2 linked regions of the Homo sapiens genome follow. The protein of the gene in region 2 purifies or fractionates together with the protein of the main gene of each other region. This does not show direct contact. Each region holds a gene or a part of one and is shown on either strand. Other genes may lie near its edges.

The links.
Region 1: the proteins of PCDHA10 (region 2) and AGAP1 purify together in Homo sapiens (affinity purification with mass spectrometry, with the first as the bait; one large-scale study listed by BioGRID). This does not show direct contact.

Annotation. Positions count from the first base shown.
Region 1 is NC_000002.12:236,039,344-236,043,157, forward strand, and holds part of AGAP1 (arf-GAP with GTPase, ANK repeat and PH domain-containing protein 1), read left to right. Parts: intron 1-1,407; coding exon 1,408-1,498; intron 1,499-3,814. UniProt on the Homo sapiens protein: GTPase-activating protein for ARF1 and, to a lesser extent, ARF5. Directly and specifically regulates the adapter protein 3 (AP-3)-dependent trafficking of proteins in the endosomal-lysosomal system.
Region 2 is NC_000005.10:140,854,297-140,858,845, forward strand, and holds the start of PCDHA10 (protocadherin alpha-10 isoform 1 precursor), read left to right. Parts: upstream 1-1,600; 5' UTR 1,601-1,752; coding exon 1,753-4,140; coding exon of another isoform or gene 4,141-4,287; exon of another isoform or gene 4,288-4,549.

The sequences.
Region 1 (3,814 bases), on a different chromosome or scaffold from region 2:
CTGAGGTGGGAGGACCACTTGAGCCCAGGAGATGGAGGCTGCAGTGAGCTATGATTGCACTACTCCAGCCTGGGCAACAGAGCAAGACCCTCTCTCTAGGTGGGGAAAAAGGTACATATCCAGTACATATCCTTTCACTTAGAACTTCTACTTCCAGGAATCTATTCTTAGTAAATAATCATGAGTGTGTACCAAGACTTAGCAATCATATGTTCTTACAGCATCGTTTATGATAGAGAAAAATTGGAAGCAACTTAAATGTCCATCAAAGAGAACTTGATAAGTAGGTCTTCACTAAGTGGAATGCTATGCAGCCATTTAAAATGATGATGTCAGAGAGTATGTGACAGCAGTGAGCAATGAACAAGTTTCGTTAGGCTGGAAAGGGCAGGTTTCTATGCAGCAATATGTATTACGCTGGCTTTTTAAAGTACATATGTGTATGTAGATGTGCTTAAACAACAGGCTAAAAGAACAGACATCAAAATGTTAATAATGCTTAACTATGGATGGCCGTATGATTGTTTATTAATTTTATGTTCTTTTTCCCCTCTCTGTATTTTCTAAACTTGCTTCAATGAGCATGTATGTTTTTAAATCCTTTTTAAAGAAGACCATAGAGCCAGGTGTGGTGGCTCACACCTGTAATCTCAACACTATAGGAGGCTAAGGCAGGAGGATCACTTGAGCCCACGAGTTCAAGGCTGCAGTGAGCTATGATCACACCACTGCACCCCAGCCTCAGCCACAGAGCGAGACACTGGCTCAAAAAATAATAATAATAAATAAATAAATAAAAATAAAGCAAGCCATCAAGTGTAAGGTTAAGAATCAGCACTCCCAGCTATACTCGTGTTTCTCCCTGCCCCCACCCTGGCGAGTGGCTTTGTCACTGTGGCAACCGAGGGTCTTCAGATGACATGTGCATCTCCCAGGGTGACGTGTGGTATGAATGGGGTTTTCTGACAAGGAACCATGAGATATGTCTTACATTGCTGATGAAGCCCTAACCCTGGGCTTATAAACGGATTATTTCTTTCTCATTCTTCTTACCAAGTAGACATGTGGCTACTGCCCAGAAGGTTACCCATTTACCTTCTCCAGGTTACCATGGTCCATGCGTATTCACAGATGATCCAGAACTCTCCTCTTTGCTCATTTCTGGCAGAGTCCGTCTCAGCTGATGAGTTAAAATGTGACATTTCCTCCCTCCCCCCGCCCCATGCATGATGATTTCTTCTTCAGTTATGCTCTTTCCCAAAGACATCAAAACAAGAGTGATTGTTTAGAAATTACCCTCGTCCTACATTTGCTCCCAATCTGTTTGATCTTTCCCTGATGTTATCAGTGATGTGCGTTTCTCCCGGGGTGCTTACGCCTTGTATTTGTGTCTTCCTCCGTGCCCAGTCCCGGCTGACGAGCCAGAGCGAGGCCATGGCCCTGCAGTCGATCCGGAACATGCGCGGGAACTCCCACTGTGTGGACTGCGAGACCCAGAGTAAGTGTGTGCGGTGGTAGCAGGGGCTGGCGCTGTGTAGCTGGAGACCACATGGTCCCACTAGGCCCGGGTTGCAGGGGACTCACATCTGTCCTGTTTGGCAGATAAGAGTTAACTGCTTTTAGGAAATTGAGATATTTTGTTTGGATTTTACCTTAACAGAGTGCCTTCCACACAAGCCTCACCCCTGGCTGCAGGGTGCGTTTCTGTGAGTCTTTCCTTGCCTTAGGCATCCGATGAGCAGCAGTCATACCTGAGGTGCAAAGGATTCAACCCCACACCCACAGCCTGTGCCAAATCTAGGAAGCCCAGGAATTCAAGACGAGCCTGGGCAACACAGGGAGAACCCGTCTCTACAGAAAATTAAAAATTAACTAGGCGTGGCAGCTGGCTTACTTTTTGCTTAATCAGTGATCACTTGTTGATTTTTTTTTTTTTTCATAAAAATAGAATATAATTGGTTCATTCCTGCCTAGAGATTCTTGGGTATTGTTTTTTTAAATTCACAATCATATGTTCTGGGTTTTGCCATCAAATGATGTCTTGTTTTTTTTTGGTCTTAAATCCATTACCCACTAAAGCCTCTGATTGAACTGATAGAAGTTGTAATTACTGCTTTGTGCCATCGAGTACCCCAGTTTTATTTCATGATTTCCGTTGTCTAATCCATACTATTACTTTCCCTTTGAAAAAGTCATTTTGTTGTTCATAATCTTGAGAGTAGGGACTTATTTTCATGGTTGCAGTCCCAGCCCAGAGACAGTATTGGAGACATTCAGTAAATTTCTTCCCTTCAGATTTTTTTTGTTAAGTAGTGTTTTGAAGAGAAGGAAGTTCAGTTCAAACAAGGTAAGAGGTGCTGGTACCAGGCTGGGTGCTGCCCAGGAGTCAAACGTGCATGGCGTGGTGGGTCCTGCCATCCTGAAGCCTGAAATGCACTGGACAAGGCACCAACCTGCTGACCATGGAGCTAAGCGCTGGGGAGAGCCATCGGGGGCATGCGGCGGTCTTGCCACCCATGCAGGAGCTGTCGTGTCAGCAGGGCTCTGGAGATGGGCAGGGTTTGTACAGGGAAGGGGCCGAAGGAATCACTGTGAGCAAAGGGAGTGGCTTGAGGAGAGCTTCTCTGGGTGGTTGTAGGATTAGAGATGCTTTTTGGGCTGGAAAACCAGTAGAAGCTAGTTGGAGTGTGAGTGCCAAGTGAAACTTTTTCCAGCTTTGTTCTTCATTTGTAAGCAGAGAGACATCATTGGAGTTTTAGAGCAGGAAGGAGATGGACCCTGAGCTCCACTTGGGGAGATGGATCTGGCCAGACCATTTTGAACATACTGGAATAGAGGCAAAGCAGGGAGGAGGCCAGCCAGGGTCGGCTTGGCCGGGAAGGGAGACAGGAGCCCAGGACTGCTCCAGACAAAAGGGAAAGGAAGCGCCCCCTCCAAGAGTCCACTCAGCAGCATAGCAGGCAGGGGAGAGATCAAAAGTCTGTCTGCGGCCTCTCTGGAAGCCTGTCCTGCGGGTGAGGGAAGGGGTTCTTCTCCAGGTATCTTGAGGTTCTTCTTTAAAGTACCTCCTTATGTTTGAATGTTTAAGTTTTACTTTCAAATGTGTGGTGAAATGAAGTTCGAAGAGAGAAGCAGTTATTTGAAGTGTGTTTCTATCAAAAAGTTTTAAAAGTAAGAGCTTTTTTAAAAGCACGAATCTGAGAAATATTAGAACATCCATTAAGGAAAATGCCTGCAGTTGTTTCCACCGTGCGTCTGAAGGTCGCTTTAAAAGGAAAGCCATCCGTGGCTTGCGGGGACCATGATACCTGGCAAATCGGAGGTCGCAGGTCCTGTCTGAGATGAGCTTGTGCATGTGAGTGCGGATGGGGGGTGGGAAAGGGAGGCCAGTGCAGGGGAGGTGTGGGCCAGTTTGTTCTGAGCAAGACCACCTGAGCAGATGGACAGGGACAAAGGGAAAAGGCAGAGTTTGACAATTCAGGAGAAAGAGGCGATACCAAGCACGCATTTGCTAAATGTGTGGTCTGTGTCAGCCCGGTGCCAAACCCTCCCATGCGCTGTCTTTTCATTCTGCAACCCTAGTAGTTGGTGCCCCTGTGGGCCCCACTTAAAGGGGAGGAATTGAGGAGCCTGAAGGGTCAAGTCATTTGTCTGAGGTCACAGAAATAGCAAGTCCCAAAGCAGGATTCAAACCCATCTGTTGTCCAGCCTGCTGTATTTTCTCAAGAATGGAAAGGCTCAGAAGATGTAGCACATTGGCAAGGATTTGTTAAGTAAAAATACCCAATTTTGGTTAAAGTACCGGGATAGGTAC
Region 2 (4,549 bases):
TGCGTGGAGATGATTGATCAATGGCAAACTTATTTTACGCTCCAGATAGCTAAAACAAACGTTGATATTTTGATACATAACTCATTACATTTTAATTCAGGGTTTATAAAAAAGTAATCTCTAAAATCAGAATTTGAATGAATTTTGATGCAAGAGGCATTCCAGAGGAGTAGAGAAGTATAGAAACAGAATTTAGTAGGACACATAAACTGATGGATTAAGTGACACCCATTTCTGTCAGTTTTCTTATTCATAAATATTGTTGCTCTGTCATTCAGATTTTAATAAAAAAAGTTTAAAGTAATTGACACATTTAAAAATATTCTTTAGAAAAGTCAAAACATCATTAAATAAAATAAATTAACCCTTGCATAAGACCAATATGTCTGTTGTTAAGTTTTCCTTTCTTGGAAAGACAGAAAACTCAAGTTTTTTTCAGCAGCACAGATATATTACATTTTCATTCCTGAATATTTGATTTCAAGAACTTTGAGAGAGAAAAAAATATTTTTACTGCAAGTGGTGATGAAAAACTTCACTGACATTGATAAAATTACTAGATATATTTCAGAACTGTGTCTTTTGGGCATTTGAAAAGCGTAAATATAACAGGGTTGAAAGCATTTGCCTCTGAAAGCAGAAATAATAAATTTCTTAATTACTTTATTCAGAATTATAATTAAGATTCTTTTTGCCCGTGTAAGATATTATAAAATGAAACTTCTTGTATAAAGGATTTTTCTGTAATAGTACTTTTCTGTTTTCTTAAATACAGAAACCACCACTCTCAGCCTGTGCAGTAGCAATAATTAAGGCATTCTATAGGTAATAATTTTGCCTGATGAGCCAAATTTGGTATTGAGCCTCATGAAAACAAATGTGGCCAAATTGAGGCCTGAGAATAGTTTCCATTTATGAAGCACTCATTCTCCTTAAGGTACTATTGCAAGCACTTACTATATTATAATTCACTCAACCACCGTATTACTATTAGGCCAAAGTTATAAAATTGGAACATGAGGGAGGGAGAGGTTAAACGATTTTCCCAAGTCATGTGGCTAGTGAGTAGGATAATAGGAATCTAAATGGAGAAATGTCTGATGTTGAAGCTAATGATCTCTAAATTCTAGTGATGACTAGATCTTCGGAGTTATAAACACCTCACAGATAGTTGATGCTTGACATTAGTGTCTAAATAAACCTTATTAAATCTCAAAATAATGAGAAAGAGAAGTAAGTTAAGTGTCAGAACTTAAATGGAACTAAAGTTGTCATTTAATAAAATATTAGTATACTCAGTAGTATGCAAATATTAAGGGCATTTTGAAATTCGGCTATTGATAATCATGTGGTTAGGGAAGAAATCACTACTCTGAGAGTCTACATTTAAGAAAACATTGCACGTGGGATCAACATTTATTGTTATTAACTATAAAGAGACGTAATGTGAGGCTTTGAAAGTCCATAGACATAAAAATACGTAAAAAAAGAATTAACATATGAATGAAAGAAAAGTTGTGAACTCATGGAATCGTACTTACACCTAAAGCCACCGGATGTCGCTGTCGTCCACAAAATAGCTTTTTAGAACAAAGGCATCAGCCAGTTTCTCAAGGACTAGGAAGTAGCGTCATTCTGAGATCTCAGCCATTTCGATAAAAAATAGATATAAGAAATAGGACAGAAAATGTCAGATCGTATGTGCGTTCTAGACCGCTGATTCGTCGATTTGTAAAACAAGAGAAGGATAAGATGGTTTCCAGATGTAGCTGCCTGGGGGTCCAGTGTCTGCTGCTCTCGCTTCTTCTCCTCGCAGCCTGGGAGGTGGGGAGCGGCCAGCTCCACTACTCAGTCTACGAGGAGGCCAGACACGGCACCTTCGTGGGCCGCATCGCGCAGGACCTGGGGCTGGAGCTGGCGGAGCTGGTGCAGCGCCTGTTCCGGGTGGCGTCCAAAAGACACGGGGACCTTCTGGAGGTAAATCTGCAGAATGGCATTTTGTTTGTGAATTCTCGGATTGACCGCGAGGAGCTGTGCGGGCGGAGCGTGGAGTGCAGCATCCACCTGGAGGTGATCGTGGACAGGCCGCTGCAGGTTTTCCATGTGGACGTGGAAGTGAAGGACATTAACGACAACCCGCCCAGGTTCTCCGTAACAGAACAAAAGCTCTCAATACCTGAATCCAGACTGCTTGACTCTCGATTTCCACTAGAAGGCGCATCTGATGCGGATGTTGGAGAGAACGCATTGCTTACTTACAAACTCAGTCCAAATGAGTATTTTGTTCTTGATATTATAAACAAAAAAGACAAAGACAAATTCCCAGTGCTTGTTCTGCGGAAGCTGCTGGATCGTGAAGAAAATCCTCAGCTAAAGTTGTTGTTGACAGCAACTGATGGAGGCAAACCTGAATTTACCGGATCTGTTTCTCTGCTGATCCTGGTGTTAGATGCCAATGATAACGCCCCTATCTTTGACAGACCGGTTTATGAAGTTAAGATGTATGAAAATCAAGTGAACCAAACATTAGTAATACGGCTCAACGCTTCTGATTCGGATGAAGGAATAAACAAGGAAATGATGTATTCATTTAGCTCTTTGGTCCCACCCACGATAAGAAGGAAATTTTGGATAAACGAAAGGACGGGAGAAATAAAAGTAAATGATGCTATTGACTTTGAGGACAGTAACACTTATGAAATTCATGTAGATGTTACAGATAAGGGAAACCCACCTATGGTTGGTCACTGCACGGTCCTAGTGGAACTACTGGATGAAAATGATAATTCACCTGAGGTGATTGTCACTTCTCTGTCTCTCCCAGTGAAAGAAGATGCTCAAGTGGGCACCGTCATTGCCCTAATCAGCGTTTCTGACCATGATTCAGGAGCCAACGGACAGGTCACCTGCTCTCTGACGCCTCACGTTCCGTTCAAGCTGGTGTCCACCTACAAGAATTACTACTCATTGGTGCTGGACAGCGCTCTGGACCGCGAGAGGGTGTCGGCCTATGAGCTGGTGGTGACCGCGCGGGACGGGGGCTCGCCTCCGCTGTGGGCCACGGCCAGCGTGTCTGTGGAGGTGGCCGACGTGAACGACAACGCGCCTGCGTTCGCGCAGTCCGAGTACACGGTGTTCGTGAAGGAGAACAACCCGCCAGGCTGCCACATCTTCACGGTGTCTGCGTGGGACGCGGACGCGCAGGAGAACGCCCTGGTGTCCTACTCTCTGGTGGAGCGGCGGTTGGGCGAGCGCTCGCTGTCGAGCTACGTGTCGGTGCACGCGGAGAGCGGCAAGGTGTACGCGCTGCAGCCGCTGGACCACGAGGAGCTGGAGCTGCTACAGTTCCAGGTGAGCGCGCGCGATGGGGGCGTGCCGCCTCTGGGCAGCAACTTGACGCTGCAGGTGTTCGTGCTGGACGAGAACGACAACGCTCCCGCGCTGCTGGCGTCTCCCGCTGGCAGCGCGGGCGGTGCAGTCAGTGAGCTGGTGCTGCGGTCGGTGGTTGCGGGTCACGTGGTGGCTAAGGTGCGCGCAGTGGACGCTGACTCTGGATACAACGCGTGGCTGTCGTATGAATTGCAGTCGGCGGCGGTTGGTGCACGCATCCCGTTTCGCGTGGGGCTGTACACGGGCGAGATCAGTACGACGCGCGCTCTGGATGAGACTGACTCGCCACGCCAGCGCCTACTGGTGCTGGTGAAGGACCATGGCGAGCCGTCGCTGACGGCCACGGCCACTGTGCTTGTGTCGCTTGTGGAGGGCAGCCAGGCACCCAAGGCCTCGTCGCGGGCTTCAGTGGGCGTGGCGCCCGAGGTGGCCCTGGTGGATGTCAACGTGTACCTGATCATCGCCATCTGCGCGGTGTCCAGCTTGCTGGTGCTCACGCTGCTGCTGTACACTGCACTGAGGTGCTCGGCGGCGCCCACCGAGGGCGCATGTGGGCCGGTGAAGCCCACGCTGGTGTGCTCTAGCGCGGTGGGGAGCTGGTCTTACTCGCAGCAGAGGCGGCAGAGGGTGTGTTCTGGGGAGGGCCTGCCCAAGGCGGACCTCATGGCCTTCAGCCCCAGCCTTCCACCATGCCCAATGGTAGATGTGGACGGGGAAGATCAGTCTATTGGAGGGGACCACTCTAGGAAGGTGGGTTATTACGTTTTCATTTTCCTTTTGTGCTTTATGAATAATATTTTCTCTTACCGCATTTTCTCAAATATGTATCAGAATATTTCATTTTTGTCTACATTCCATTTATGCTTGAATATTTCTAGTGATACCTTTGTAATATAATTTATTCCAGGAGTTTTAAAATTTTTTTATCCTACCCAGTGTGTCAGCCTTTGATTGGTACTTAAATTTTTTTAAATAACAATTTATTCTGAATACACTAATATTTTCCAATACAAATATGTGATATAGGTTGCAGTTCTGACGATTTACTTTCATAATCACTTTTCGTTACAAATATTTGTGAGATTAGTACTTCATGTTATTTCATTTCCAATCTAAATTTTGATTTGATTGTATTTGCATTACCAAAAAATTCCACTGA